Homo sapiens: one gene and its partners. The protein of the gene in region 1 purifies or fractionates together with the protein of each later gene. This does not show direct contact. Each region holds a gene or a part of one and is shown on either strand. Other genes may lie near its edges. The genes, in order: CRTAC1, TRAPPC10, MTO1 and ZMYM6.

Region 1 (8,168 bases):
GGGAGCAGCAAGGGTGGGGGAAATAGGCAAATACTCTTTGGAAACTCTCCAATCCATCTATAATCTGAATCTGGGAGGTCTCACCAGCAGTGGTGTGACTGCAAGCAGAGAGACCCCACGCCAACATTCCTTGGCGCTCCAGACCTGGGTTCCAAGACCACAGTGAGGGACTCGGCACTTCTGACTCCTAAATGCACAGACTGAAACCTGGACTTGCATGGCTTTTGCTTAAAACACCACTTGGAATAATGAGACGAGATTGTAGAGGCAGGGAAAGAATAATTAGGAATTTCTATGACCTGTGTATGTCCATGACAAGAACTGTATTTTCTCCTCACCTCCTCACTCTGAAAAACAGATTCAAAATAGAATCTCCCCAACTGTATGGGATGTATTAATTTACCAAAGCCTGGTCAGTCAATAACTATGAGTGCCTACTGTATAGAGAAAGTATGTCCATCTTTATAGTGAAGAGGAAGCAGGCCGCTGGAGTGGAAACAGCTCTGAATCGAGCAGTGGGAATCCTAGGGCCTAGTTCCATGTCTTCCACCAAATAGCCATGTGACCTTGGCTTTATCCAGCTTCAGTTTTCTCATCTGTAAATTAAATGTGCATGTGAGTGTTGGGATGGAATGGGGTTGGATGAGATGCTCTCCAAGGCTCCTTGCTTCTGGCTCTAATGTTCTGGAACTCCATGAACCCTTAAAGAGTTCAAAGAACACAGCGGCACCAAGCACAAAGGAATGATCCCCGAGAGAGGGTGGGGCTGTGTACCAGCTCTGTCTCCTTGGAATGTTGTGCTTGCACCTGCCCCATAGCACCCGAGGTCACAGGACCACCTGAAGCCCAGGAAGCATGTGGTAGAAGGATTCCAAGTACGATGGTGGTGGTTGAAGGCTGTAGCCTGAGCTGCCTTAAAGCATTAAGTTGCTACAGCCAGTAAAGGGCAAGAAGTGAGAAAGTCAGTGGTCCTGAGCCAGGTACCTTTGGCGCCCCCTACTGGACACCAAGGAGTCTGCTCCACCTTTAGGCTTCCACCGCCTCAGCACGGAAGCAAGGGAGCGCTTGAGCATGAGAGGCTGTCACAAGCTGTTTAGTAGGACTGCCTTCCCGGTTGGTGGTATTCTTTCTATAGAAGTCTATTGCACTCCCTAGAATTACACAGGCCATTGGTCCACAGATTTACAGGGGCACCCCTGCGCAGCCATAGGACGTCTTAACCAAACATCAAGGTACCAAGGAATAAACACCAGGGTTCAGAACACCAGGTGCAGCCCAGATGGAGAAGGGAAGAAAGAGCAACAAGCAGGTATTTCGCTGCACAAATCCCCAGTGGAGAGAAGGTCTTGGGAAATGCAGCAGAAAAATGTTGACTGCAGCAGACAACGATGGAGCTGGGGGTTGGGATATAGATTGATAGCACCCATAAAATATCTCCAGGCTGAAGCAGGTACCCTAGGAGTTTGAACATCCACCTACATTCAGGGATGGGATAAGGTGGAGGATTCAGGCTCAAATGAGCAGCCACAGAGCAGGTTCCCCAGACTCCCTACACACCGTTTCGACCTTTTCCAGAGTCCATTAGTACCCACCGGAAATGGAAATGTTCTAATTGTGGTCCTCTGTGCCATCATCAAGACCCTCAACTCCCTTCATTACCTCTTAAATTGACTTTAGGACCTACTGCCAGAAGGATGTTCTTAACCAAGTCAGAGAGAGAGAGAGAACATTTTCTCAAGAACCATGCTGGAACAGCCACCATGTTCCCACTTTTCCAGCCTCCACCTCTCCCCCATGGCTGAGGGTGAGGTACTCTGTGACTCTCAATGAGCTCTAATTCAGTCTTGGACATCTCCAGCCCCAAGTCGTCTGGGTTCCAAATCTCCGTCAATCGCTTATCTCTTCCCACATGAGTTCTCCCCTGACTCAAGAAAACACTATAGAACTGTCCCCTGTCCTGGGACCCTCTTCCCTTCTTTTCCACTTGGCTTCACGTGGAAAGTCCTGCACCCATCCCAGAAGACACCTCAAGTGCAACTCAAGAATGTGTCCTGTCAGGAGAACGGAAGCATCTCCTGGGATGTGCAGAAGCCACACTGGGTGCACCCACCAGCAGCAGCAGCGGCGGCGGCGGCGGCGGCGGCGGCGGCGGCGGCGGCAGCAGCAGCAATATTCATTAGTCATTCCTGGAGGAAGCCCCCCCAGCTCTCAACCCTAGGAGAATTTCCCCGCCACTCTGGGAGGCTTCCATCCAGGCTGGGATGACTTTGGATTCTTGAGTTGCTTTCTGCAGAAGCGGGACTAACCAGGGCTCCCAACTACTGTACTGCAAAGAAGCGCGCTGCATTGCTGGGCATGCCCCCAAGCCCGGCCTGGCTGCCCCATCAAAGCCTCCAAGTGCCCCCACGGGGTCGAGGAGGACTCAGGGTTCCCCTGGAATGCCTGAAGCCGGCTTGCCTCAGGCAGCCTGAAGGGAAGACCACACCTCGTCCAGCATAAGGCGGCTAGCAGCTACGCCGCGCGCGGGGCTGGCTCCCGGAGCTCTCTGCCACCCAGCGCTGTGCCCGGGAACTCGGCTTCCCAGGGGAGGAAGAGCCAGCCCGCGGGGCTCTTCCCCAGCCTGGAAGCGTAGGCACTCGGCCGAGGCCAGTGGCTTCCCAGGCCCGGGTCTCAGCCTGGCTGACTGGGAGACTCTCCCGATAGCCCGGCACATCCCTCCTCACCCGCTCCGCCCCCTCCAGGCCCCAGAGGCCCCCTCCCCTGACAGCTGACCTCCAGTGCGCCCCCAACACTTTCTCTGCCAGCTGCTGGCTGTCGCCCCCACACATCAGCTCCCACCTCTCCGCCACCTCCAACCCGGCCGCCGCCTCACCCCCAGCCCGCGGGGGAGGCTCCGCGCGCCAATCGAGTCCAGCGCCTCCCAGCAAGTTAGGAGCGAAGCCGCCGCCTTCGCGATCCCAGTCTTCCCGGGTTCCCGGGCGGCGTCCCCGCCACCCTTGCGGGCGGATCCGGGGGGGCGCGCAGAGCTGGAGAAACTTTCTCCGCCTTAGGGTGGGGGGCACCGGTGCAGATACTCACGCCGGGGTCAGCGCTCGGAGCCATCCTCCCGCTCTCGGCCCCGCCGCCTAGGGGCGTGGGAAGCGGGCGCTCGCTGCCGCCTCTGCCGCCGGCGCCGCCGCCTGCTTGCTCCCAGCCCCGGTCCCGGGCTGGCCTCGAGCCTCCCGCCCCGACGCCGCGCGCTCGCTTTATACAACTCCACTCGAGCGCGCCCGGTCTTATGTAAAGGCTGGCGGAGGCCCGCAGCCAATGGCGCGGCAGCTGGAGCCGGGGGCCCGGGGTGGGGGGCGCCGGCGCGGCCAATCGCGGCCCCGAGAGCCCGGAGAGCCGGGCGTGGGGAGGGAGCGCCTCCCCGCGCTGATTTAGGAGCCGGGATTGCGGTGGCAGCAGCCGGCAGCCAGGCTGGCCCGGCGCGGCGCGGCGGCCACTGGGGTGGGCGGCGGCGAAGGCGGCGGCGAGGGCGGGCGCCCCCCGCGCCCCGCCACTGCGTCGCGTAACCTTCAGGCGGCAGCGAGGCCTGGCGAGGAGGGGAGAGGGCGCCTGGCTGGGCGCTGGGGGCCCCAGGCCGGAGGGAAGCGAGGGTCCCTCGGGAGGCAGCGCAGGGAAGGAACGCGAAGGGGGAGGGGAGGGCGGCGAGCCCCAGGACCCCGCGGCCACCCCTGCGCGCAGGACCGAGGGTGGAGGCGGGAGCGGCTGCACTGCCTTCCCATTTCCCCCCAGGATAGCGATCTGGCGTCGCCGGGCCGGGCCAAAGCGGCCGAGCGAGCCGCGCTGATGGCGAGATTTCGACTACGGAGCTAGAGCCGAGCCGATCTTTATCCAGCCTGGGGACGTGTCCGAGCACCTCCCGGGGACTGCTCAGTATGGAGAGCAGGGCTCCGCGACGGCCCCCGCAGGCGGGGAGCGGGCGAGCGCAGCTCGGAGATCAGGCGCGCAGAGGCCCAGGCGGCTGCGGGCAGCGCCGCTTCTACCCCACCCCGTCCCCACCAGCAGTGCCCCCACCCCATCCCACCTAGTCCCTACCCCAGCAGTGGCCGAGTCGGGCCTGGCCCACCCGCTCCTGCCGCCTGCGTCCTACTAGCCTCCCTCACCGCTTTGATCACAGGTACTGCCCGCCTCTCCTCGCCCCCAACCCGCTGCCTTGGTGGTGGTGGGGGGATGGTTTCTGCCTCTCTGGACCAGGGGAATGGGGGTGCTAAGCGCCAGAAAAACACACTTGATCAGCAATGCTCAAAATACCCCTGTTCAGGCAGGAAACTGGCCTTGGTGGGTCACACTCTGAAGGCAAATCCTTTATTTTACGCCTAGAATAGAGCCTGGCACATAGTAGGCGCTCAGTGTTTATTGAATGAATTCTGAGCTTCCATGAGTGAGGTCTTTGGGTTTCTGAAAGCCAGGTAAAGGGGCCACAGAAGAGAAAGACTTGGGAATCCACCATCGGAGAGGGAAGGAGCTAGGACTGTTTTCCCATCCGTTGACGCTTTTGTGACCATCACCCACTAGTCTGGCTTCTGGGCCCTTGACTCTTAGAATGATTTGAATGTGTTCTTTTATAGAGGGCCACACATCCAGCCTCTGGCCCCTGTTATCCACAGATTTTGAGCAGAACTACCAGGACCTAGTCTGGGCTCTGTTTTCAGGTCTCTGTGATCTTCCTCTGAAAAGAAATAGCTAGGCACAGACAAACTTTCTGGCTTTTTGAGCCCCCATCAAGCCTGTAAGGTTGTGGGCCCCTTTGAAAATCTGGCAAAAATTACTGAATCATTTTTCTAGAAAAATATACAAACACACACATTTACACACACACACACACACACACACACACACACACACACACACACCTTGAGTATACTTTCAGGATCATTAGGAACCCTGAGTCTCTTGGGGCTCGGTCCAATGTCAACCTGTTTCTTCAGGGGTCTAGGACAGTAGTTTATAATCACCCTCCTTTTGGGGATCACAGACCCTTTAGAACCTTTCAAGAATCTCATAAATGTTATGGATCTGTTGCTTATAAAAATGCTCACTCACATACACACATGTTGACATGCAACTTTAGGAGGGTTCGTGGATCATTAAAACTTAATCTAGGGCCCTGATTAAGAACCTTCATCTATCGGCAAATAGACTCTGCCCCCAAGGCCATATCTGATCCCCAGCTCTCTGCATAAGGAGTCCAGTTGGCTCTGCACCCTGCTGGAACATGCCACCACCTTGTTCTGAGGGCATCTGAGTCATCTGGCCAAGGCTCTGGCACCTGAGAGACTGTCTCCACACTTTCTCTGCATCTTGGTCCCCGCCACCCTCTTAATGTGGAAATAAGTTGCAGGTTGTCATATTATGTCTGATCTATGAGCATTCCTTAGCCAGAAACTCCAACTCAGGGAGACAGCAAGTGACTGGTAATTAACCAGTTTCACTCAATCCCAAACATCTGAGCACACCTTTCTTGGTTTTTGTTCTCACCTCTCTCTTCTCCGGTGAAGCTGTGCACAGCAGCCCCAGCTGTAGCGCCTCACCTCACCCAGACCCGACAGATTTAGTAACCAGCACGGTAATTATCAGCATTAGCCAACCAGATGTGAATAGGTGCTCTGTGCAAAATAACTCTGTAATAATCTCACACTTTCCTGCAGCTAGCCAGGTAAGGTTACAACAGACCAAAGGTGCTAGGGAAGGACAGAAAAATGCAGGAAATGATGGAGATGTTCCAGCCAGGAAGTGCTCCAGGGAATACAATCTGGCTTCAGCACTTGAACTTGTGAGGGTTTAGCCCAGTGGGCCAGGCAGTCCTGGTTGGAAAATTTCTCATTTCTCTGATGTCCTCGATGTCCATTTGCTCAGTTCATGTCAGTGTCTGCTCAGAGCTCCAGCCCTTCCCCACCCCCAATCCCGTGAGAGACCTCTTGTCCTCCCACATTGCCCAAACACAGCTTTCTTGAGGCACATGCACACGGTTATAGACTGAATTGTGCCTCTCCGGACCAAATTCACATAGTGAAGCCCTAACCCTTAGTGTGACTGCATTTGGAGATAAGGCCTTTAAAGGGGCAATTAAGGCAAAATGAGATCATAAGGGTGGACCCTAATTCAATAGGACTAGTGTCCTCGTAAGAAGAGAGAGAGATACCAGAGATCTCCCATTTCTCTCTGTGCATCCTCAGGAGAAAGCCTGCCTGAGTAACAGGAGGAGGCCATCTGCAAGCCAGGAGCAGGGCCTCTGCAGAAACCAGACCTGCCAGCACCTTGATCTGGGACTTCCAGGCTCCAGAACTGTGAGAACATTAACTTCTGTGGTTAAGCTCCACGTCTGTGGTATTGGCTATGGCAGTCTGAGCTGACTAATACACACATTTTCAGCACACCCTTACCCCATGCATCTTGTTCAGGCTCCAGTCCTTTGACCCCAGTGAAGTTGTTTTTTCTTCAGAGTGTTCCCCCACAGACTTCTTCATTCTTACCTGGGGAACGTGCTTAAATTGTTTTCTCATCTGTTCATACCCAAACCAAGTCTTCCTTCCTGCGCCACCTTCCAAAACTGCCCTGGCCAGCAGTTTTCAGCTCTCCTGCAGGTCTACACCATCTTATCACCTGTGATGCACATTAGCTTTTTTTCACTCAGTGATACTTGGCCTCCCTATCAGAATATGAGCCCCTTGAAGTCCAGAGTTTGTACCTTGCAGTTGACTACCTCACAGAACCCAGCATGAAACTGGGCACAGAGTGAACACACATTAGATATTTGCTGAGTTATTCCAATTAAACCTATTTACTTAAAAATACTATTAAAGCTGTACAGTACTTCATTTTCTAAAAACTCAAGATGTATTGTGTGTGTTAGTCATCATCAACATCACTGGAGCAGGAGTTCTCAGGAGCTAGTTTTCTTCTAAAGTCCAGGATCAGAGAGGTTGGACTTTACGCAAGTTGCTAACAGTCATGCAACAAGTTAAGGACAGGACAAAAACTGTAGGAAACACTGAAGACAACCTCCAGACCCCATGTCCTTTCATTGACAAATGACTTTGTTAATTCTCTCTCTACATTAGAAGATTACTTGGCTATCTTCTCTCTCTCCGGGTGAGAAGTCAAGACACCAGATCTTAGAGATGCTTCTGTCCCAAGAGTTCTGTCACAGGAGAACAGAGAGGCTGGTACAGTTCCTCACACCCTTATCTGAAGCCCTTGAGGCCAGAGGCATTTTAGAATTCAGAAAGGCACCATACATAAACATTCTCAGTGAAGCTTTGAGCAGCATATTGAAATCAGACACATTAATATTTCTGCAATGAAATATATGAAGTTTACACTAAGCAGGTGTGAGGATAAAGTAACTTCACATCAGTTTAGGTCAGATTTTGCTACCAGATGAGTCTTGGCATCAAACTTGCAAAACAAAAATCCTTTTGACTTTCAGAGATTTGGGGATTTGGAATTGTAGATAAGGGATTGTGTATTTTAGGCTTGGTTGTCTCAAAAGAAATGAATCTTTTTGTAAGGGGGTGGAAAAACAGCAATAGTTGAAAATGGGAAACCACAAACTGTGAAAGAAATGAGGAGCTAAAGGGGGTATGAGGAAATAACCCCTTCTCAAACCAAGTCGTATGGAGGGGTCGTCCCTTTTTCCCAAGGAGTACACATTTATCACATGGCCGTTGGGTTTCAGATGCACTTGTGGCTTGTAAGAGGCAGATGCATAGGATGGACTTTCAAGGGGAGGTAGGTTAGGGGTAAAGTTGGACAGGAACTCTTTTAGAGAAGCCACAAACCCTGGGGGATGGTTCAGTCAGGGCCAGAGCCAGAGCCATCACAGATGCAGAAAGGAGTCTTCCAGATGGCCAGAGAGTTTGTTCAGAAGACCTTGAGCTGTGAGCGCATGCTGCAGGGAAACTCTGCAGGCAGAGCAGCCCCAGGAAAGGGATGCTGGAAGAAGGAGGACATGATGGAATCCTGGGGAAGTCTGGTTAGAAACTTTCGAGGCTGTGGGGCAGGGGGAAGCCTGGAGGTAACGATGCAAGCAGGTGTCTGCTTATCATGTTAACCTGTGCCAAAATGGCTTGGGTTCCAGGAACTTACCTGCCTATGTGTCCAGTGAGCTACGGGGTTTTCCC
Region 2 (7,750 bases), on another chromosome or scaffold:
CTTTTCATAGTAAACCATGAAAATGGAATACCTGCAGTGTCAAAGTCACCAACTTGTCACCTTTTCCAGTCACAGAATCCCAACACATTGTATTAATGATGACTGGGGGGGGTCTTACAGCCTGATGTATATAGGATGAATAAATGTAGAGAAAGGAGCATTTTCATGAAAAATAAAATTTAAAAACCAGGTAGGATTTATTTTAAAGAACACAGTTGAAAGTAAAACATTTACATCAGCCCAGTTTGCCCTTTTGTAAAAAGTAGTATAGCTTTTCATTTTATATACAAACCTGCAGTGTCTGATTTCATTTTAAAACTTAATTTTAAGCACTAAAGAAAATTTGAATAGAAGCCTGTGTGTATTTTCTCTGCTAATTCTGTATGGGATATCTGGCATCTCCACTAAGAGTAATTAATACAGGATCTGACCTTCCTAGGCTGTGCTGACAATGGAACTGTTGTAGGTAAAGTCATTTTCAGATTAAATACAACAATTTCCACATTAGAATCAGAAGAGTTATAATTTTTCCAATCATAGGACATCCCATGAAATTCACAAAAATTATAACTTATTTTATTTTCCATTTGACAGTATTTACATGTTCCACAGATATTTGTAAAACGGCTGCAAATTCCTTGCTTTTCAGATACACATTGCATATCTGGCTTCACAATTATTTAACATCTCTTTATCAACAAAACCAGCTTGTCTCAAACACATACACCTTACTTTAGATAAAAACAATAAACATCCAATTACAGTTACTCTTTTAGGACTTTTATGATGAACATTAAGAAAAAAATGACAATTTTGGGTGACATTCTTCTTTGTCTTAAAGAGGCAGAAGCATTCATGTAACATAGTTTGCAAAAGATCTTTTGGGTAATTAGGGGGAAAAAAACTGATAAATTTGATTTCATTTCATTTCCAGGCAATTAAGCGCCGTAAACATTTTAAATTTCCCCTTCACTTTCTTCCTCTAAATATATATGTAGTTGGATAATTTCATCCTGGGAGTAGAACCAGATACAAGAAAATCAAACAGTAATAAATGAAACATTCCCTCTTCCAGAAGGTAAGAGAGAAAGCTACATTACACTGGGGAAGGCTCCCAGGCTGACGACACGGATTACAGTCTCTTCTGACGGAATCAAATCTCCCATCTCTTTATTCACAGGACTTGGTAGAAATGCAGGGCAATCGTCAATTTTTACAATAAAAAACCTTATTTTAGAAACCCTAAACTATCATTAGATTCTGAAGTTCTAATTTGCTAACTAGTTTGACCAAGTTTGTTAAACTGCACATGAGGAAGATAAATTTCTGGAAAGTTTAATTACACAATTATTTATCTTCTTTACACGTCTCCAGTTTCTACAAATGAAAAAGACAGGAGGAAAAAAAAATCACACCACCTTTATTTATTGAATGAGCTAAAAGACAACACAGAGAATACTGGAAATGACGGCTGTCATATTTCCCCGGTCTGTGCCTCCTTCCTCCCATGCCCCACCGCCTCCCGCAAGCACAGTGCTGGGCAGGAACCCGGTGCTCCTTCTCTCCACAACTTGCACATCCACGGGGATTCACACGAGGGCCACCCACTGCTGGACCCGACTCTATCTGCTTGAGCTAATCTTGTCAAGTTCAATTCCAAGCACATTTGCCCAGTAAATTAAGAGTACTCTATTTCAAGTGTACAAAAATACATCGCTTTGGAGAACTGGAAAAGGTTTAATACATACAACACTTATTTACAAGCTGTGACTTTCACACCTGTAAAAACAAACACACTTATTTTTGTCCTTGATTTTTGGTGCAACTTATACATAAACATTACATCAGTTAGTCTGTATTTTTAAAAATAATAAATCAACCATATGTACAATTAAATTTACAACCGAAAGCAAATAATCCATTGGAACAGTGTGACTGCAACTCAGTAGACCAGTGGAGGACATTCCAGGACTTGAGTCCTTCCCTACAACCAGACCAAAAACACACTGAGGACCTCTCTCATCCTCACGATGGAATATCTTAATTTCTAAGACTTAAGATGCAAAAGAAAAATAACGATTATACAGCTACAATTACATGTAAAGACTTTAAAGGGACAGAAAAACAACATATTAACCCCCACATATATAATGATCATTAAATTAAATATATTTAACTCCCAGTGCATATGATATTCTATCAACATTATGGGGGACCACAGGGTTCCAGAAACATTTATCCCTAAACCACCTCACCGCTGAGGCGCTCCTCACAGCCGGGTCTCAGCTTTCTTCAGTACCTTTCACGTGGCTCCGGCTGATGGGCCTCCAGGTCCCCCAGCTCCGGCATCCCAAGGCACAGAAGGGGTTATGATCCCTCCCTCCCCCACCCGCCTCCCCTAGAAGGGTGTTATTCTAGAAAAGCACAATGAGAGGATCTGCGGTAAACGGCTGTTTTACCCCTTAGGGGACACAAATCCACCCCGATCAGGAAACTGGGCAGCTGTGTGACCAGAAAGGCACACACGTCACTAAGACCGTGAGGGCTGCTGAGTGTCTACCTGAAAGACAAATGGCCTTCCACGAAGAGCCAGCAGACGGAGGCTGTTCCGTGGAGACAGCGTGGGTGGAAACTTTCATGAGCAGCGTGTGAGGTAGGGGGAGGGAGGCCAGGGCTCTGAGTAAGCGGCGTCGGACACCAGCATGGGGACGGGGTGAGAAAAGCAGGAATCTGAGATCACAGGCGGCATGAAAACAACAACAGAACTCAGCTGGCCAGCTGCGTGATGACACTCTCTGATGTCCCCACGGCCAGGCAGGACCACTGAAGGTCTGGCTGGAGCCAGAACGGAAGAGTCCAGTCACAGTCCCATAAAGTGCACTCCTAGCTGGGAAGTGGCGTGTGTTCACCCTGGCGTTGTCATGTTACACTGACTTCCAGGACGTGGTCATCTTGGCTGGGGATGACCAGGACTTGTGTGCCCGAGCTGGAGTTGAAGACCTGGCCGGCCGGCAGTGCCTGCAGCCGGGGCATGGGTAGGCCTTTGTGCTCGCTGCTGCAGGCCGAATGCACGCTGCCCCTGCTCTTGAGGCTGCTGCTGTCCGGCTGGTCGTCCCCGTGCTTGTCTACTGACAGGCTGTCGTTTTCTATCCAGCTGTCTGCAAAACACACAGGAAGTTAGACCCAAGCTGCGCCGACACTCACCTGGGGACGGGCAAAGCCACACGGAGCCAGGCTGAACGTGCAGAATGCCACCCGAGGCTGCCCCTTTACAGAGCACTCTGTGCACAGAGGCTTGGCTTTCAGAGCAGGTGCCTAAGATTCTAACAGCGGATGAGGCTTCTAGTACCAGTTTCTACCGGCACTGAAAACACGCCGCTAGTTCTCCAACCTGCTCAGTCATAAGTTTATCACCTCTCGCACAAAGTGCTCACCTGCTCAAATACTGAAGGTAAACTTTTTCTTCCAAAGTCCTTACCAGCGTCCAGTTGGGAGGAGTGTGCAGAATGATGGGGGAGGTACTTGAACAGCCTGACGTCGGGCAGGGGGAGATACCCGGCGAAGAGCGGCATCACTTCCATGTGGACCCTGTGAGTGGCCCGAGCAGCCACTGGCATGGAGATGACACCGCAGCTTTTCCCACACACTGCCCAGTTGCTACTGTTGTCGACAACTGAAACGAGAGGAAGCGATGTGTCATCCAGGACGGGCCTTCCAGTACTCAGGCGAGAGTCACGGCCGTCGTTACCCAATCCTCTCACCCAACGCTGTCTGACAAAACACTGCGGACACAGAGCCCAGTGCCTTGTAGCTGCGCCTGAAGATAAAGCCATGCACTTTCACGGTGGCAACCCCTATTTCATTGAGTCCAATTTCAATTAGTTCTGGATTAGAATGAATTATGCTGGACGTGTACAGAAAACTGCATTTTTCCTGTGAGGTTAATAAATGATTTAATTTTGTTTTCAAATTTTTGTGTCATCTTCCACAGTATGGTGACTTTGGCAGTTAATGGGTTCTGTCTGGTAAGTGGCAGTATCCAAGACCACTGGGTCTGAAGCCAACTCTGCCACTCAGAAGAGCACCCCAAGGCCTCCAGGCTCAATGACCGCTGTATAGTGCTGAGACCACCACCAGCCTCACAGAGCTGCTTTTTAAGGATGGAAAGAGAATACGTATGAGGGAACTACAAAAAGTTCATGCAAAAATGGAATCCAAAGATGAAAACAGAAAATATAAGCTTTATTTCTCAACATAAGCCCCACCAAGGTCAAGACATGTTTGTAAGCAATGATGCCATTGCTTACGATGCCATTTAGTCCATCCCTGAAGAACTGGGAGGCCTGAGAATTTAGCCATGTCAACGCAGTCTTTCTCTACATTATTAGCTGAATAAAAATGGGTGCCTTTTAAAGACTTCTTAAGATCAGGAAACCAAAATCAGTCAGAAGGAGCCGAATCAGGTCCACAAGGTGGATGCCTCATGATTTCCCATAGAAACCCTCACGAAGTTGGGCTTGTTAGAGGAATGAGCAGGAGCTTTGTCGTGGTGGAGGAGGACTCTCTGGTGAAGCTTCCCCAGGGGTTTTTCTACCAAAGCTCTTGCTATCTTCCTCAAAACAATCTCATAATACACAGACGCTGCTGTCCTTTGACTCTCCAGAAAGTCAACAAGCAAAATGCCTTGAGTATCCCAAAAACCTGTTGCTGTGGCCTCTGCTCTTGACCAGTCTGCTTCTGCTTTGGTGGGGCCACCCCACCTCTTGGTAGCCATTGCCGTGTCTGCTTTGTCTTCAGGATGGTACTGGGAAGGCCACACTGCATCTCCTGTTATGGTTCTTTGAGTAAATGCTTCAGGATCTTGATCCCGTGTGTTTGAAGTTTCCATGGGAAGCTCTGCTCTGGTCGGCCACGGACCTGGGTACTAGGGTTTTGGCACCCACTGAGTGGAACGCTTGCTCACCCTTCAGGCGTAATTGCATAAGCTGAACCAGTTCAGATGTCTGCGGTGTTGGCTGTCATTTCTGCTGTTGTCAGTTCCCTCCAATTAGGGCATGAACAAGGTGAATTTTTTCCTTGAAAATGGATGTGGATGGTCTGCTTGCTATGGCCTTAATCTTCAGCATCATCTCGTCCCTTCTTAAAACAAGATATCCATTTGCAAACTACTAATTCTTTGGGGCACTGTCCAAAGAATTTCATAAACTTTTCATAAAGCATCAATGATTTCACCATTCTTCCACCCAAGCTTCACCATAAATTTGATGTTGGTTGTTTTGTTGTTGTTGTTGTTGTTGAGGCGGAGTTTTGCTCGTTGCCCAGGCTGGAGTGCAGTGGCGCAATTTTGGCTCACTGCAACCTCCGCCTCCTGGGTTCAGGCAATTCTCCTGCCTCAGCCTCCCAAGTAGCTGGGCTTATAGGCGCCTGCCACCACGCCCAGCTAATTTTTGTATTCTTAGTAGAGATGGGGTTTCGCCATATTAGCCAGGCTGATCTTGAACTCCTGACCTCAGGTGATCCGCCTGCCTCAGCCCCCCAAAGTGCTGGGATTACAGGCGTGAGCCACTGCACCCGGCCAATGTTGGTTCTTGATTTAATTTTAGCAGAATTCATGTTGCTCTGATAGGGGCTCTTTTAAAACTGATGTCTTATCCTTCTTAGTGCCTCAAACTAGATCCTGCTCAGTGAGTAGGAGCTTATTTTGGTGCAAAAAGTGTTGAAATCCATGCATAGTTTTTTCATAACGTATCTTCCATGATTTTTTTGAAGACCCCTTGTATGTAAAGCACTTAGTACCACTCCTGGGACATGGTAGTGTCTTAATATATGGCAGGTGTTATTATTAACATTAATTATTAAAACACAACCATCATGTAATTCAATGCAATTCAAACACTTAAGTGATCATTCACTGGGACTAGCCCTGGAGATATGAAAGTAAGCAAGACAGGATCCTTGCCATCCAGTAGCAGTAGACCTGGTAAAGAGGTCACAGCTTCCCATCATGAGGATACCGAGCAACCGCCCAGGGGGAGTGAGTGACCAGAAGGCCACGAGCAGCAGAGAAGGGCTCAGGGAGGTGGACATCCTGTAGTTGGGGATGGGGGACCTTTGAGGACAGGAGCTACTACAGGACATGCAGAGGCCCTAGGAGTGTCAGGAGGAAGGCAAAGGAGTGACAGTTCTCAGAGTGTGGCTCTCAGGGCACCCGCAAGCTCATAGCTTTCACACTGCTGCCTTTCTACGCTGCTGACCTCGCGCTGCTGGGGCAACCACAATGGCATGAACTCGGGCCAGACTGCGCAGTCATGTCACTCATGTTCTTTACTACCATGAACTCACAGCAAAAAAACAAAAAAAAAAATGCCACGCTTCACAAAGCAGTCAAAAGTGCTCATTTTATTAAATTCAGCTCCTGAGTAGACTTTTTTTTAATTGTGAAATGTTTATAGACTCACAAGAAGTTGTAAAAGTAGTAGAGGGGTCACATACCTTCATCACCAGCTTCACCCAACTGTGCCATCTCGTGTAACACAGGAAGCTGACACTGGTACCATACAGTGACCCAGGCTGCAGACCCCACTGGATTTCACTACAGAGTGAACCAGGCTGCAGACCCCACTGGATTTCAATACAGATAGAACCAGGCTGCAGACCCCACTGGATTTCACTACAGAGTGGACCAGGCTGCAGACCCCACTGGATTTCAATACAGCTAGAACCAGGCTGCAGACCCCACTGGATTTCACTACAGAGTGGACCAGGCTGCAGACCCCACTGGATTTCAATACAGATAGAACCAGGCTGCAGACCACACTGGATTTCACTACAGAGTGGACCAGGCTGCAGACCCCACTGGATTTCAATACAGATAGAACCAGGCTGCAGACCCCACTGGATTTCACTACAGAGTGAACCAGGCTGCAGACCCCACTGGATTTCAGCAGCTTTCGCAGGCATTCTTTGGGTCTAATTCTATGGCATTTGTCACATGTGTAGATTCGTGTAACAACCACAGCGGCCCTGGCCCAGAACTCTCCATTACCACAGAGGACGGCCTCCTGCTGCCTCCCACTGCTCCGTGGAACACTGACCCGCTCTCCTTCTGAGGCTGGCATTTTGAGGATGTCATTTAGAAATGGAATCACACAGTACACCTCCTTATAGGACTGGCGTTTTTCTCTTAGTATAATGCCCTTGAGATCCAACCACAGCACTGCGTGTGTCAACAGTCCCTTCTGTTTCACTGCTGAGGAGGAATCAGATGTGCCAGTTTAACCGCTCTCGAGCTGAAGGACGTTTGAGTTATTTCCATTCTTGAGTGCTTGTGTTCTTGACATTCTCTGGGTCTCTGCTGCAGAATGACAGCTGGCTCAGGGAAAGCACACGGGGAGCGCTCGGTGCTGCGAGCTGAAATAGCCGCTGTTTTCACAGAACGCCCTTTTCACTTGCAAGAGCGCTGGGGAAGCTAGTTATTCAGTGTTGGGTATTTGGTAGACGTCTGATTAAAAATGAATGATGTAAGCCTGTCACTTCAAAGAAAACAACACGACTATTTGCTGCCAATGATGCCATCTGAGACTTTAAGCAAAAATCAGAATTTTGGAAAACTTACACTTGCCACTGTGAGCTTGAAAGAGTTCTGATGCTCCAAGCCCTCCCTGAGAGATCACAAATGCAGATTTTAAAAAAATATTGTCAAACGAAAGGTGCCCACATTTGGAAGATCTGCACAACTCAGGAAACCATG
Region 3 (7,750 bases), on another chromosome or scaffold:
TCAAGTAACAATTACTAAATTAGTTTTACTTTCATTTCCTTTTCTCCCCCGACTTTCTTTATTTTCCAGATTTAATGGTTATATTGTTTTTATTAGTATTTATGTTTATACCCTTAAATTGTTTATTTTTTTATTTTTGAGACAAGTTCTCTCCCTCTTTCTTAGGCTGGAGTGCAGTGGCATGATCACAGCTCGCTGTAGCCTCGACCACCTGGACCCAAGTGATCTTCCTGCCTCAGCCTCCTGTGTAGCTGGGACCACAGGCATGTGTCACCACCCCTGGCTAATTTATTATTTTTTTTTGTAGAGATGGGGGTCTCACTATGTTGCCAGGACTGGTCTTGAACCCCAGGGCTCCAGTGATCTTCCTGCCCCAGTCTCTCAAAGTGTTCATATTATAGTCATGAGCCACTGAGCCTGGCCGATTTAATTTAATATCTTTAAATGCTATTTTGTGATCCTGTCCATATTTTATAGGCCCAACAATAACAATTTTTTTGTGGTAAAATATACAAACCATAAAATGTACCATTTTAACCATTTTTAAGTGTACAATTCAGTGCTATTAAGTACATTGACAGTGTTGTGCACCCATCACCACCAACGGTCTCTTGAACTTTTTCATCATCCCAAATTAAAATTCTGTACCCATTAAACAAAAAGTCCCCATTACCTGAAGAATAAACCTCCATTTTACTGTAAGGTAGAGCTATCTGAGGACAAAACCTTAATGTGTAAATTTCAGCTGTTTCTTTCATTTTCTGTTCCAAGTTTCATTTCTACATTCCTCCTCAGTTCTTATTCTCAGTTCTCTAATTTCTGAGCCTTTGCAGGGCAAATTAGTTCATTCTCATTGATATATCTTCTCTTCAGATATTAATACTTAAGTTATAGCTATCTCCCCTCTGCTAGATGAGTTACCATTCTTCCAAACACTTTCTATCTTTCAAAAATACATTGAAATTTCTCATCTTCTGACTGGTTCTTTTTCATTACTTGTCCTTTTGGTTTTATACCTTTTTTATTCCCCTATTTAATTTTCTTTGAGTTTTAGAAGGGAGAAGAAATGAGAGGTTGTATGCCATATTTATCCTGAAGTCTAAAATTAATTAATTTTTTAAATTAATTGAGACTAACTTTTTAGTGCTGATATGATTTTAGGTACATGTGAATTGGTGATAACACATTGTATTCTCTCTCCTAGATTGCTTAGATTGAGATTGATAACATATTAGCCTTCTTACTCATTTAAAATTCTTTGTCTGGGGTAGGGGAAATGGGAAGATACTGCTCAAAGGTTATACATTTTCAGCTGTAAGTTGAATAAGTTCTAGCAATCTAGTGAGCAGTATGGTAACTGCAGTTAATAATAATGTATGATATACTTGAAATTTGCTAAGGGAGTAGATCATAAGTGTTCTCACCACACAAAACGTGTAACTATGTGAGGTGATGGTTATATTAATTAGCTTGATTATGGGTATCATCACAGAAGGTATACTTGTATCAAAACACCATGTTGCATACTCTAAATATATACAGTTTTTTATATGTCTGTTATATGTCGATAAGTCTTGAAAAAACAAAAATATTAAAAAAGATTCTCAAGTTTTTAAAGACTGATAGTTTTTCTGTAGTTGTAATGTAAAATAGTCACATTCCATTTTGATCCATGGTAACAATTTAAAAAATGACTTTAGGCCGGGCGCGGTGGCTCACGCCTGTAAGTAATCCCAGCGCTTTGGGAGGCAGAGGTGGGTGGATCACCTGAGGTCGGGAATTCGAGACCAGCCTGACCAACATGGAGAAACCCCATCTCTACTAAAAATATAAAACTAGCTGAGCGTGGTGGCGCATGCCTGTAATCTCAGCTACTCGGGAGGCTGAGGCAGGAGAATTGCTTGAACCCGGGAGGCGGAGGTTGCAGTGAGCGGACATTGCACCACTGCCCTCCAGCCTGGCGATAGAGTGAGACTTCATCTCAGATAGATAGATAGATAGATAGATACATAGATACATAAATACATAGATACATAGATAATGACTTTATTCTTTTTTCTTGTTATTTAGTGGATGGAAGCACAGTATATGCAGAGAGTGTGATTCTGACTACTGGGACATTTCTGAGAGGCATGATTGTAATTGGATTGGAGACGCATCCAGCAGGACGTTTAGGGGATCAGCCTTCTATAGGATTGGCTCAGACACTGGAGAAGTTAGGGTTTGTGGTGGGAAGGTTGAAGACTGGGACTCCACCCCGAATTGCCAAAGAGTCCATTAATTTCAGTATTCTAAACAAGCATATACCGGACAATCCATCCATACCATTCAGCTTTACCAATGAGACAGTATGGATTAAGGTAAGATACTTTACGAAAACCTGGCTTACAGCTGGTATTGGCTATTCACAGCAGGAAGTACTGTAACTTTTTTTTTTTTTTTTTGGCAGCAGTTCACTTTATAGCACTATTGCTTATAGTGCAAAGAAATGATTTTTTTTTTTTTTTTTTGAGATAAGGTCTCACCTTGTCACCCAGGCTGGAGTGCAGTGGTACAATTATGGGTCACTACAGCCTTGACCTCCTGGGCTCAAGTGATCCTCCCACCTCAACCCCCTTGAGTAGCTGAGACCATAGGCATGAGCCATTGTGCCTGGCTTTTTAAAATTTTTTTGAGAAATGGGGTTTCACTATGTTGCCCAGGCTGGTCTCGAACTCCTGGGCTCAAAGGATCCACCCCCCTTGGCCTCCCAAAGTGCTGGGATTGCAGGTGTAAACCACCGAACCCAGCCAAAGAAGTTATCCTTTTTTTTTTTTGTGGTGGAGACTTGCTCTGTCACCCAGACTGGAGAGCAGTGGCACGATCTCAGCTCACTGCAACGTCTGCCTCCTGGGTTCAAGCAGTTCTTCTGCCTCAGCCTCCCGAGTATACAGGCACGCGCCACCACACCCGGCTAATTTTTATATTTTTAATAGAGACAGTGTTTCACCATATTGGCCAGGCTGGTCTCGAACTCCTGACCTCGTGATCCACCCATTTCAGCCTCTCAAAGTGCTGGGATTATAGGCGTCAGCCACTGCACTCAGCCTAAAGAAGTAATCTCTAAAAGGGATTAGCTAACTTGGCTAATTGGGTATTTCCCCATAAATCGTAAATTTCTTTTTTTTGTTTTTTTGAGACAGTCTCAGTCTGTCGCCCTGCTGGAGCGCAATGGTGAAATCTTGGTGCACTGCAACTTCCGCATCCTGGGTTCAAGCGATTCTCCCACCTCAGCCTCCCTAGTAGCTGGGATTGCAAGCACCCGCCATCATGCCTGGCTAATTTTTATAGTTTTGTAGAGACGGGGTTTCACCATGTTGGCCAGGCTGGTTTTGAACTCCTGACCTTAGGTGATCCGCCTGCCTCAACCTCCCAAAGTGCTGGTGCTGGGATTACAGATGTGAGCCACTGCACCCGACTTTTTTTTTTTTCTTTTTTTGAGACGGAGTTTCGCCATTGTTGCCCAGGCTGGAGTGCAATGGCGCAATCTCGGCTTACTGCAACCTCCGCCTCCCAGGTTCAAGCAATTCTCCTGCCTCAGCCTCCTGAGTAGCTGGGATTACAGGCTCCTGCCGCCACACTGGCTAATTTTTGTATTTTTAATAGAGACGGTGTTTTGCCATGTTGGCCGGGCTGGTTTCAAACTCCTTACCTTAGGTAATCCACCCTCCTCAGCCTCCCAAAGTGCTAGCATTACAGGCGTGAGCCACCGTGCCTGGCAAATCTTAAATTTCATTACTTTTATAACCTTACATATTTTGTAAATTAAGCTTTTATTTTAAAAAATTTTTTCATTTATTATTATTTTTAATAGAGACAGGGTCTCGCCATATTGCCCAGGCTGGTCTCGTACTCCTGAGCTCAAGCCATCCGCCCACCTCAGCCTCTCAAAGTGCTGGGATTACAGGCATGAGCGACCGCACCTGGTCAAATAGGCGTTTTTTGTTTTGTTTTGTTTTGCTTTTTGAGATGGAGATTCAGTCTTGTTGCCCAACCTGTGGTGCAATGGCACGATCTCAGCTCACTGCAGCCTCCGCCCCCTGGGTTCAAGCAATTCTCCTGCCTCAGCCTCCCTAGTAGCTGGGATTACAGGTGCCCGCCGCCATGCCCAGCTAATTTGTTTTTGCATTTTTAGTAGAGACAGGGTTTCACCATGTTGATCAGGCTGGTCTTGAACTCTTTTTTTTTTTTTTTCTTTGAGATGGCATTTCACTCTTGTTGCCCAGGCTGGAACGCAACAGCACAATCTCGGCTCACTGCAACATCCACCTCACGGGTTCGAGCAATTCTCCCGCCTCAGTCTCTTAAGTAGCTGGGATTACAGGCATGTGCCACCACACCTGGCTAATTTTGTATTTTTAGTAGATGGGGTTTCTCCATGTTGGTCAGGCTGGTCACGAGCTCCCGACCTCAGGTGATCCGCCCGCCTCGGCCTCCCAAAGTGTTGGGATTACAGGTGTGAGCCATCGCACCCAACTGGTCTCAAACTCTTGACCTCAGGTGATCCACCTTCAGCCTCCCAAAATGCTGGGATTACAGGCGTAAGCCACCATGCCCGGCCTAAATTAAGCTTTTGAAACGATATCAGGTGGTGCTGCTGGAAAGGCAGCCGCCCCCTTGCCCATTACACAATGCATTTTTATGGAGAACCCGACACTGAACCATTCTTAGATGACCTGCTTCTGGGGTGGGATTTCAGACATAGCAGAGCAACTTCCTCGCTGCGATCTATTGAAAGTTAACCCTCAGCTGGGCGTGGTGGCTCATGCCTGTAATCCCAACAGTTTGGGAGGCTGAGGCAGGTGGATCACTTGAGGTCAGGAGTTCAAGACCAGTCTGGCCAACATGGTGAAACTCCATCCCTACTAAAAATAAAAAAAAAATAAAAAAATTAGCCAGGCATGGTGGCTCATGCCTGTAATCCCAGCTACTCGGGAGGCTGAGGCAGGAAAATTGCTCGAACCTGGGAGGCAGAGGTTGCAGTTAGCTGTGATTGTGCCACTGCACTCCAGCCTCCAGCCTGGGCAACAGCAAGACTCCATCTCAAAAAAAAAAAAAAAAAAAGAAAGTTAACCCTCAACGCATATAATTTTATTTTAAAAAGACGGAGAAAAACAAAAAAAAGTAAGCAACATCGAGAAAAAGTTGTAAGACTTTTCTCAATGTAAGAGTTTTTTCACAACAAACTCCTATAAACCATTGAACGTCACTCACTGTTAATATTTTACCATATTTATCGCTATAGATATATCAATTTATGTCCATATTTACTGTGTAAGATGGTAATATACACATTTATTCTTATTCTTTTTTTTCTGGAATATTTGGGAGTAAATTGCAGAGATGATGAGCTCTTACCTTAAGCCTATATCTCAACTAAGCACAGAGACATCCTTTTATATAACCCTTATGCAATGATGAAATTCAGAGTACGATGCAGGGACAATAAAATTTAAATTTTTTTTTTTTTTTTGAGACGGAGCCTCACACTATCCCCCAGGCTGGAGTGCAGTGGTGCAATCTCGGCTTACTGCAATCTCGCCTTCTGAGTTCAGTCAGTTCTCATGCCTCAGCCTCCTCAGTAGCCGGGATTACAGGCACCCGCCAACACGCCTGACTAATTTTTGTAGTTTTAGTGGAGACAGGGTTTCACCATGTTGGGCAGGCTGGTTTTGAACTGCTGTTCTTAAATGATCTGCCCGCCTTGGCCTCCCAAGTGTTAGGATTACAGGCATGAGCCACTGCGCCTGACCAAAAAATTTTTTTAAAGACAGAAAAGAGTCCAGGCGCAGTGGCTCATGCCTATAATCCTAGCACTTTGGGAGGCCAAGGCAGGTGGATCACTTGAGGTCAGGAGTTCAAGACCAGCTTGGCCAATATGGTGAAACCTCACCTCTACTAAAAATACAAAAATTAGCTGGGCATGGTGGCATGCGCCTGTAATCCCAGCTACTCAGGAGGCTGAGGCATGAGAATCGCTTGAACCAGGGATGGGGAGGTTGCAGTGAGCTGAGATTGTGCCACTGCACTGCAGCCTGGGCAACAGCAAGACTATGTCTCAAAAAAAAAAAAAAAAAAAAAAGAAATTCGGAGAATTTAACACTGATACAGTGCTATTATCTAACATAAAGTCCGTAGTCACATTTTGCTAATTGGTAAATATTGTCCAAAGCAGCTTTTTTTTTTTTTTTGAGATAGGATCTCACTGTGTTGCCCAGGCTGGAGTGCAGTGGTGCAATCTCAGCTCACTGTAACCTCCGCCTCCCAGGCTTGGATGATCCTTTTACCTCAGCCTCCCAAGTAGCTGCGACCACAGGTGCTCACCACCATGGCTGGCTACTTTTTGTATTTTTTGTAGAGATGAGTTTTTGCAGTGTCACCCAGGCTGGTCTCAAACTCATGGACTGAAGGGATCTGCCTGCCTTGGGCCCCAAAAGTGCTGGGATTACAAGTATGAGCCACCAAGCCTAGCCCAAAACAACCTTTTTATTCCCAATCAAGGGTCATGCATTGCGTTTAATTGTCATTTCTCTTTAAAGTCTTTTATCTGGAACAGTTTGTCAATCTTTAATGGTGCCGACATTTTTGAAGTGTAGAGGCCACTTTTACCTATCTCTCGAGTTTTAAAAAAATGTGGCGTGGCATGGTGGCTCACACCTGTAATCCCAGCACTTTGGGAGGCCAAGGCAGGTGGATCACAAGGTCAAAAGATTGAGACCATCCTGGCCAACATGGTGAAACCCCGTCTCTACTAAAAATACAAAAATTAGCTGGGCATGGTGGCATGCCCCTGTAGTCCCAGCTACTTGGGAGGCTGAGGCAGAATTGCTTGAACCCGGGAGGCAGAGGTTGCAGTGAGCAGAGATGATGCCACTGCACTTCAGCCTGGCGACAGAGCAAGACTCTGTCTCAAAAAAAAAAAAAAAAGTATATTGTATGTGTTTAAGATTGAGGATGAAGAATTGGCCAGGCACAGTGACTCTCACCTGTAATACCAGCACTTTGGGAGGCCAAGGTAGGAGGATCACTTAAGCCTAGGAGTTCAAGACCAGCCTGGGCAACATAATGAGACCCTGCCTGTACAAAAAAAAAATAATTGATGGTCCTAGTTTCTGGTGAGTGTTATCCTGATGTATGGCTTCAAATATTCTGTTACTTTGAGCAAGATACTTTTATATATTTGCTTTGGTAGTATGCAAATTATGATAACCCTTTCTTCTTTTTTGAGACAGAGTCTTGCCCAGGCTAGAGTGCAATGGTAATGGCGCAAGCTTGGCCCACTGCAACCTCCACCCCCTGGGTTCAAGCGATTCTCCTGCCTGAGCCTCCCAAGTAGCTGGGATTACAGGCACCTGCCACCATGCCTGGCTAATTTTTTGGATTTTTTTAGTAGAGACAGAGTTTTACCATGTTGACCAGGCTGTTCTCAAACTCCTGACCTCAGGTGATCCACACACCTTGGCCTCCCAAAGTGCTGGGATTACAGGCGTGAGCCACGGCGCCCAGCCCAAACAAAGCAAGGAGTCCCTGGGTGGGCACAAAAACACTTTTTTTTTTTCTTTTTTTTTTTTTTGAGACGGAATCTCGCCCTGTCATCCAGGCTGGAGTGCAATGGTGCAATCTCGGCTCACTGCAACCTCCGCCTCCCAGGTTCAAGTGATTCTCATGCCTCAGCCTCCCGAGTAGCTGGGATTACAGGCACCCGCCACCA
Region 4 (7,750 bases), on another chromosome or scaffold:
CTCTTTTGAATAATTCAAAAGGTCTCTGCTCAGATGTTTACTTCAGAATTGCCCCTCCTCCATGCCATCACTCTCCATTCCTGTACGCTGCTTTATTTTCTTCATCGCACTTATCACTACCTAGAATTATATATTATTTGTTTTACTTGTTTATTTTTTGTGTCTTCCTCTAGAATGTAAGGCTCATATGAGCAGAACTTTGTCTTGTTTTCTGCGGTATCTCCACGGCTTAGAACAGTGCCTGGCTTGTAGTAAACATTCAGGAAATAAATATTGAGTGAATACACATGTTTTAAGTACATTCCTCCACTCTGTTGTTTGCCCTATAACTTTGTTTTATAAAGACCTTTGTTTACAGAAGTTTTTTTTTTTTTTGGATTAAAAAACTTTACTTTTTGGCCGGGCACGGTGGCTTACGCCTGTAGTCCCAGCACTTTGGGAGGCCAAGGTGGGTGGATCACGAGGTCAGGAGATTGAGACCATCCTGGCTAACACGGTGAAATCCCATCTCTACTAAAAATGCAAAAAAAATTAGCCGGGCGTGGTGGCGGGTGCTTGTAGTCCCAGCTACTCAGGAGGCTGAGGCAGGAGAATGGCATGAATCCAGGAGGCAGAGGTTGCAGTGAGCTGAGATCATGCCACTGCATTCCAGCCTGGGTGACAGAGCGAGACTCCGTCTCAAAAAAAAAAAAATTAATTTACTTTTTAAGAGCTTTATTATGATAGGCAGAATAGTAGCCCCCCAAAGATGTCCATGTCCTTGTCCACAGAATCTGTGAATATGTTACATTACATGGCAAAGGTGAATTAAGGTAGCAAGTGGCATTAGGGTTCCTAATCAGCTAACCTTAAAATAGGGAGATTATCCTGGATCATCTGAGCAGTTTTAAATTTTGAGGTAGTCAAATGTATCAGTCTTTTCTACTTTGATTTACTCTTTTGTGTTTTATTTAAGAATACTTTGTGATCCCAGCTGGGAGTGGTGGCTCACGCCTGTAATCCCAGCACTTTGGGAGGCCGAGGTGGGCGGATCACGAGGTCAGGAGTTTGAGACCAGCCTGGCCAACATGGTGAAACACCATCTCTACTAAAAATATAAAAAATTAGCCAGGCGTGGTGGCGCACGCCTGTGGTCCCAGCTACTCAGGAGGCTGAGGCACAAGAACTGCTTGAACCTGGGAGGCGAAGGTTGCAGTGAGCTGAGATTGTGTCACTGTACTCCAGCCTGAGTGACAGAGTGAGACTCCGTCTCAAAAAAAAAAAAAAGAAAAAAGAAAAGAATACTTTGTGATCTGTTTATTTGAAAGTTCTCTAGTGACTTTAGTTCTTTTTTTTTCCCTGAGATCTTTAATTGATGTGGAATATATTTTTGTGTATGGTCTGAGGTTGGATCTAATTTTTCTGAGTAGCCAGTTGTCCTAATCAGCAAGATTAACAATTGTTTTCATTGTTTTGATCATACTTATTTTAAAAATATATATTATATGTATAATTTTTATATTTATAGTTTATAAATATATTTTTATATTTATAGTTTATAAGTATATTTTTATATTTATAGTTTATAAGTATATTTTTATATTTATAGTTTATAAGTATATTTTTATATTTATAGTTTATAAGTATATTTTTATATTTATAGTTTATAAGTATATTTTTATTTTTATAGTTTATAAGTATATTTTTATTTTTATATTTACAAATATATTTTTATATTTATAGTTTATAAATATATTTTTATATTTATAGTTTATAAATATATTTTTATATTTATATTTATAAATGTTTTTTAAAATCAGTAAATTAAACTAATACTGATTGGGAGAAGTAGGAATCTGTGTGTATTTTCCAAGGTGACTTTTTTATTGCAACCACTCTTTCAGAGGAATTATATTTCTCTTGATGTATATGAACTTTCAATTGATAGCAATTATAGTCAGTGATAAGGTACTAAAAAAAATCTTTCTTTGGTTTCTGAATTTGCTTTTAACTAGGAAAGTACACAGGAAGATGCTATGAAATTTCCATCTTCCCAATCTTCCCAGCCTTCCAGGCTTTTAAAGAACAAAGGCATATCATGCAAACCCGTCACACAGACCAAGGCCACTTCTTGCAAACCACATACACAGCACAAAGAATGTCAGACAGGTATGTATCCTTGTGCGTTCCCATGTACAAAGCTTGTTTTCTGGCTTGTTTGTTTTTGTTTTTTAAGAAAGGAAAAGAAAATAATTGACAGAGTCTTAAATGTGAAAACATTCCTTTTCTTGGATCACATGCTTTGAATACTTAATTTATTGCTTTCATAATTATTAACACTAATAACCAGCTATCATAACAAGCTATTATAATTACTAACATACAGTTTTAGTTAAAAGCATTAGTGATTTAACCTGTTTTTTTTTTTAAATACTGCGAATTCAGTTGTCAGTTGCTAACAGTACAATTAATTTATCTGAGGTATTGGTGACGATGAAAATTGTTTGAGCTTTACTTGAAAAAGTTGTGAAGTATTACTTTTAATCCCACTACCCTTAGATTTTCAATTGCTTTAATAGTCTACTGTGCCTAAAGCACTGGGTTTTTTTTTGTTTGTTTGTTTGTTTTTTTTGAGATGGAGTTTCACTCTTGTTGCCCAGGCTGGAGTGCAATAGCGTGATCTTGGCTCCCTATAACCTCTGCCTCCTGGGTTCAAGCGATTCTCCTGTCTCAGCCTCCTGAGCAGCTGGGATTACAGGTGCCTGCCACCATGCCCGGCTAATTTTTGTATTTTTAGTAGAGACGGGGTTTCATCACTTTGACCAGGCTGGTTTTGAACTCCTGACCTCAGGTGATCTGCCTGCCTCGGCCTCCCAAAGTGCTGGGATTACAGGCATGAGCCACCGCCCCTGGCCTGATTTTTGTTTTTAATAATAATTTTACTTCATAGAATACACTATATTTAAAAGCTTAGTCTGTCAACAAGTAGTAAGTTTTTATGTAGGGTACCTTTATTTTGGTAGAAGTCAAGCAGAATCCTGTTTTCCTTCCTCAGGAAATTTATTTTATATTCCTATTAAAACAATATATTATTTGTACCTGAATTTATATTATATACACGTTCACACATGGAGAGTACTAAAGGATCTGTGGGCATCTATATGTGTGTATGTGTGTGTGTATGTTTGTGTGTGTGTGTGTGCTTATGTTTTGAGTTCTAGATTAAATATTGAATTGTTGGTCAGACGTGGTGGCTCATGCCTATAATCCCAGCACTTTGGCAAGCCAACATGGGCGGATCACCTGAGGTCAGGAGTTTGAGACCAGCCTGACCAACATGGTGAAACCCCATCTCTACTAAAAATACAAAATTAGCTGGGCATGGTGGCACAGGACTGTAATCCCAGCCACTCAGGAGGCTGAGGAAGGAGAATCGCTTGAACCTGGGAGGTAGAGGTTGCGGTGAGCTGAGATCGCGCCATTGTGCTCCAACCTGGGCAACAAGAGTGAAACTCCGTCTCTTTTAAAAGAATAAATCTCGAATGTTTTCTAACAATCGAAATTACTTTTTCATTTGACATTGCATTGGAAACATTATTCCACAACAATATAAATTTAAATATACATTGAGATTATTTTTTTCCAATTTTTATTTTATTATGTTTATTTTATTTTATTCGGGGGTACATGTGCAGATTTGTTACCTGGGTATGAGATTCTTAACATAGATTTCAGTGTATATAATATAACCAACTCCGTTAAGATTGGAAATTTAGATATTTGTATTATAAGCAATGTTGGGTTAAGCTATGTTAATGGATCTTTGTCCACTTGCCTAATTATGTCCTTAGGATAAATCCTAATCAGTGGAAGTGTTGATTCAAAGACTATCATCTTTTTTTTTGTTTGTTTTTGTTTTTGAGACAGAGTCTATCTCTGTCACCCAGGCTAGAGTGTAGTGGCGCGATCTCGGCTCACTGCAACCTCCACCTGCCAGGTTCAAGCGATTCTCCTACCTCAGCCTCCTGAGTAGCTGGGATTACAGGCACCTGCCACCATGCCCAGCTAATTTTCTTTTGTATTTTTAGTAGAGACGGGATTTCACAGTGTTGGCAACGCTGGTCTCAAACTCGTGACCTCATGATGTGCCCGCCTCAGCCTCCCAAAGTGCTGGGATTACAAGCGTGAGCCACCGCGCCGGCCTATCATCTATTCTTAAGTATTTTGATACCTGTTGCCTAAATTGCCCTCCTGAAAAGTTACATCAATGTATGCTCCAACCAGCAGTGTTCAGGAGGATCCATTTCTCTACAACCTCACTGACACTGAGTATCAAAATTCAGAAAGGTTGAATATACAGTACAGTCAATACTAGTATACTCTTCATCCAGATTAATGAAATGTTAACTTTTTGCAATATTTATTTTCTTTTTTTTTCTGGATTGTTTGAAAGTAAAACATTATTTTTCTGTCTCTTTTTCTTCCTTTTCTTTCTTTTTTTTGAGATGGAGTTTCACTCTTGTCTCCCAGGCCGGAGTGCAATGACATGATCTCGGCACATTGCAACCTCCGCCTCCCGGGTTCAAGCGATTCTCCTGCCTCAGCCTCTCAAGTAGCTGAGATTATAGGCATGTACCACCATGCCTGGCTAATTTTGTGTTTTTAGTAGAGACGGGGTTTCACCACGTTGGCCTGGCTGGTCTCGAACTCCTGACCTCAGGTGATCTGCCCGCCTTGGCCTCCCAAAGTGCTGGGATTACAGGTGTGAGCCCCATGCCTGGCCTTTTTTTTCTTTTTCTTTAAAAAAATTTTTTGACACCAGTGTCACTCACCAATAAAAAATTTATTCTTTTTGTTTTTTTTTGAGACGTAGTCTCAAGAGTGCAGTGGTGTGATCATGGCTCTCTGCAGGCTCAACCTCCTGGGCTCAGGCAATCCTCTTGCTTTAGCTACCCAAGTAGCTGGGACTATAGGTGTGTGCCATTGCATCCAGCCAATTTTTTTTCTTCTTCTTTTTTTTTTTTTAATGTAGAGATGGAGTTTCGCCATGTTGCCCGGGCTGGTCTCTAACTCCAGGGCTCAAGTGACCCACCCACCTTGGTGTCCCAAAGCACTGGGATTATAGGTGTGAGCCACCCTGCTCAGCCAAAAAGTTTATTGTTAATTTGATGTGTATCATGGTCTTCAGCCCTAATTTCAATAACCTATTGGGTGCTTGGGATTACTTGTACATGTACCACATCCTACAGTTTTATTATACCTAGTGATCAAGCTTTGGGCAAAGGAGAAATTCAGTTTTCAGTAGCATCATTGGAAGTATTATGACTTGTGCTTAAACTTTTACCAGTGCATTCTTTTGATAAATAGAAATAGTAACAAAATATGAATTTTAAATATGTGGGGAGATACATAAAGAACATTGCTTATTTGTTCTTGAAAATAACAGTGATTCAAATATTTCATTCAGATTTACCTATGCCTAATGAAAAAAATGATGCAGAACTTGATTCTCCACCTTCAAAGAAAAAAAGATTAGGTTTTTTCCAGACTTATGATACAGAATATTTAAAAGTTGGTTTTATTATCTGTCCTGGATCAAAAGAAAGTTCACCAAGGCCACAGTGTGTCATTTGTGGAGAGATCTTATCCAGTGAAAACATGAAGCCAGCAAATCTTTCTCATCATTTGAAGACAAAACATTCAGAATTAGAAAACAAACCAGTAGATTTTTTTGAACAAAAATCTTTAGAAATGGAATGTCAAAATAGTTCTTTAAAAAAGTGTTTACTAGTTGAAAAGTCACTTGTGAAAGCTTCTTATTTAATTGCTTTCCAAACTGCTGCAAGCAAGAAGCCATTCTCCATTGCTGAAGAATTAATTAAACCATATTTAGTAGAAATGTGTTCAGAAGTTTTGGGTTCAAGTGCTGGAGACAAAATGAAAACTATTCCACTTTCTAATGTTACAATTCAACACAGGATTGATGAACTATCTGCAGACATTGAAGACCAGCTGATTCAAAAGGTCAGAGAGTCAAAGTGGTTTGCCCTTCAGATAGATGAGTCATCAGAAATCTCAAATATCACACTTCTTTTGTGCTATATTCGTTTCATTGATTATGATTGTCGTGATGTAAAAGAAGAATTATTATTTTGCATTGAAATGCCTACTCAAATAACTGGCTTTGAAATATTTGAACTAATAAATAAATATATTGATAGTAAATCTCTGAATTGGAAACATTGTGTTGGTCTCTGTACCGATGGGGCTGCAAGCATGACTGGCAGGTATTCTGGTTTAAAAGCAAAAATTCAAGAAGTTGCCATGAATACAGCGGCATTTACACATTGTTTTATTCACCGTGAACGTTTAGTGGCAGAAAAGTTGTCTCCATGTTTACATAAAATTCTTTTGCAGTCAGCACAAATTTTAAGTTTTATAAAGAGCAATGCATTAAATTCACGTATGTTAACAATTTTGTGTGAAGAGATGGGATCTGAGCATGTGAGTTTACCGCTTCATGCTGAAGTACGTTGGATATCAAGAGGGAGAATGTTAAAAAGATTATTTGAATTACGACATGAGATTGAAATATTTTTAAGTCAAAAGCATTCAGATTTGGCCAAGTATTTTCATGATGAGGAATGGGTTGGAAAGCTGGCCTACTTATCAGATATATTTTCACTTATAAATGAATTAAATTTAAGTCTCCAAGGAACTTTGACTACTTTCTTCAATTTGTGTAATAAAATTGATGTATTTAAGAGAAAGTTAAAAATGTGGTTGAAGCGCACACAAGAGAATGATTATGACATGTTCCCTTCATTTTCTGAATTCTCAAATTCATCAGGCTTAAATATGACAGACATCACAAGGATTATTTTTGAGCACCTGGAAGGACTTTCTCAAGTGTTCAGTGACTGTTTTCCACCAGAACAAGACTTGCGTTCAGGAAATTTGTGGATAATTCACCCTTTTATGAATCACCAAAATAATAATCTCACCGACTTCGAAGAAGAAAAGCTAACAGAGCTATCTTCAGATTTAGGATTACAAGCACTATTTAAATCAGTGTCTGTAACTCAGTTTTGGATAAATGCAAAGACAAGTTACCCAGAACTCCATGAAAGGGCAATGAAATTTTTATTACCCTTTTCAACTGTTTATTTATGTGATGCTGCCTTTTCAGCTTTGACTGAGTCAAAACAAAAAAATCTGTTGGGTTCTGGCCCTGCCCTAAGACTTGCAGTCACATCTTTAATTCCAAGGATAGAAAAATTAGTGAAGGAGAAAGAGTAGCAATATGCACATTGCTTAACAGTGAAGTCAATAATCCTGTGTTAAGTTTTGTATAAGTATCCTAAAAGATAATTTCCTAATGTGGATTTGTGTTTTCAGTGATTAAATGTTTTAATAATTTTTCCCTTTTTGTTGAGGAATTTAATAATTATGATTGTTATAAATAATTATGTATAATTATAATCTAGGGTAGAAAATTTAGTTATTTCATTAAATTTGGACTAGTGACAAAGACTGCAGGTAATGAGAAGCCCAGTTTATAATGTAACAGCACAACCTGGATGTTGAAACAGCTTGGCCTTTAGAAGCAAGTGGAACATTTCAGTCTTCTAGCCAACCAGCTACTTACCCCTGCAAGGTTGTGAGTAGGTGGAAAAGATAGATCTTTTTTTTGAGATGGAGTTTTGCTCTTGTTGCCCAGGCTGGAGTGCAATGGCGTGATCTTGGCTCACTGGAACCTCTGCCTCCTAGG

Evidence for each region.
Region 2: the proteins of CRTAC1 (region 1) and TRAPPC10 purify together in Homo sapiens (affinity purification with mass spectrometry; 2 studies listed by BioGRID and IntAct, with this or other methods). This does not show direct contact.
Region 3: the proteins of CRTAC1 (region 1) and MTO1 purify together in Homo sapiens (affinity purification with mass spectrometry; 2 studies listed by BioGRID and IntAct, with this or other methods). This does not show direct contact.
Region 4: the proteins of CRTAC1 (region 1) and ZMYM6 purify together in Homo sapiens (affinity purification with mass spectrometry; 2 studies listed by BioGRID and IntAct, with this or other methods). This does not show direct contact.

What each region holds. Positions count from the first base shown.
Region 1 is NC_000010.11:98,027,371-98,035,538, forward strand, and holds the start of CRTAC1 (cartilage acidic protein 1 isoform A precursor), read right to left. Parts: upstream 3,252-8,168; 5' UTR 3,103-3,251; coding exon 3,079-3,102; intron 1-3,078.
Region 2 is NC_000021.9:44,098,701-44,106,450, reverse strand, and holds part of TRAPPC10 (trafficking protein particle complex subunit 10), read right to left. Parts: exon of another isoform or gene 7,372-7,750; intron 7,355-7,371; coding exon of another isoform or gene 7,275-7,354; exon of another isoform or gene 6,385-7,274; intron 3,674-6,384; coding exon 3,479-3,673; intron 3,159-3,478; coding exon 2,920-3,158; 3' UTR 1-2,919. UniProt on the Homo sapiens protein: Specific subunit of the TRAPP (transport protein particle) II complex, a highly conserved vesicle tethering complex that functions in late Golgi trafficking as a membrane tether.
Region 3 is NC_000006.12:73,471,295-73,479,044, forward strand, and holds part of MTO1 (5-taurinomethyluridine-[tRNA] synthase subunit MTO1, mitochondrial), read left to right. Parts: intron 1-2,070; coding exon 2,071-2,360; intron 2,361-7,750. UniProt on the Homo sapiens protein: Component of the GTPBP3-MTO1 complex that catalyzes the 5-taurinomethyluridine (taum(5)U) modification at the 34th wobble position (U34) of mitochondrial tRNAs (mt-tRNAs), which plays a role in mt-tRNA decoding and mitochondrial translation.
Region 4 is NC_000001.11:34,986,632-34,994,381, reverse strand, and holds part of ZMYM6 (zinc finger MYM-type protein 6), read left to right. Parts: intron 1-1,994; coding exon 1,995-2,148; intron 2,149-5,446; coding exon 5,447-7,278; 3' UTR 7,279-7,750. UniProt on the Homo sapiens protein: Plays a role in the regulation of cell morphology and cytoskeletal organization.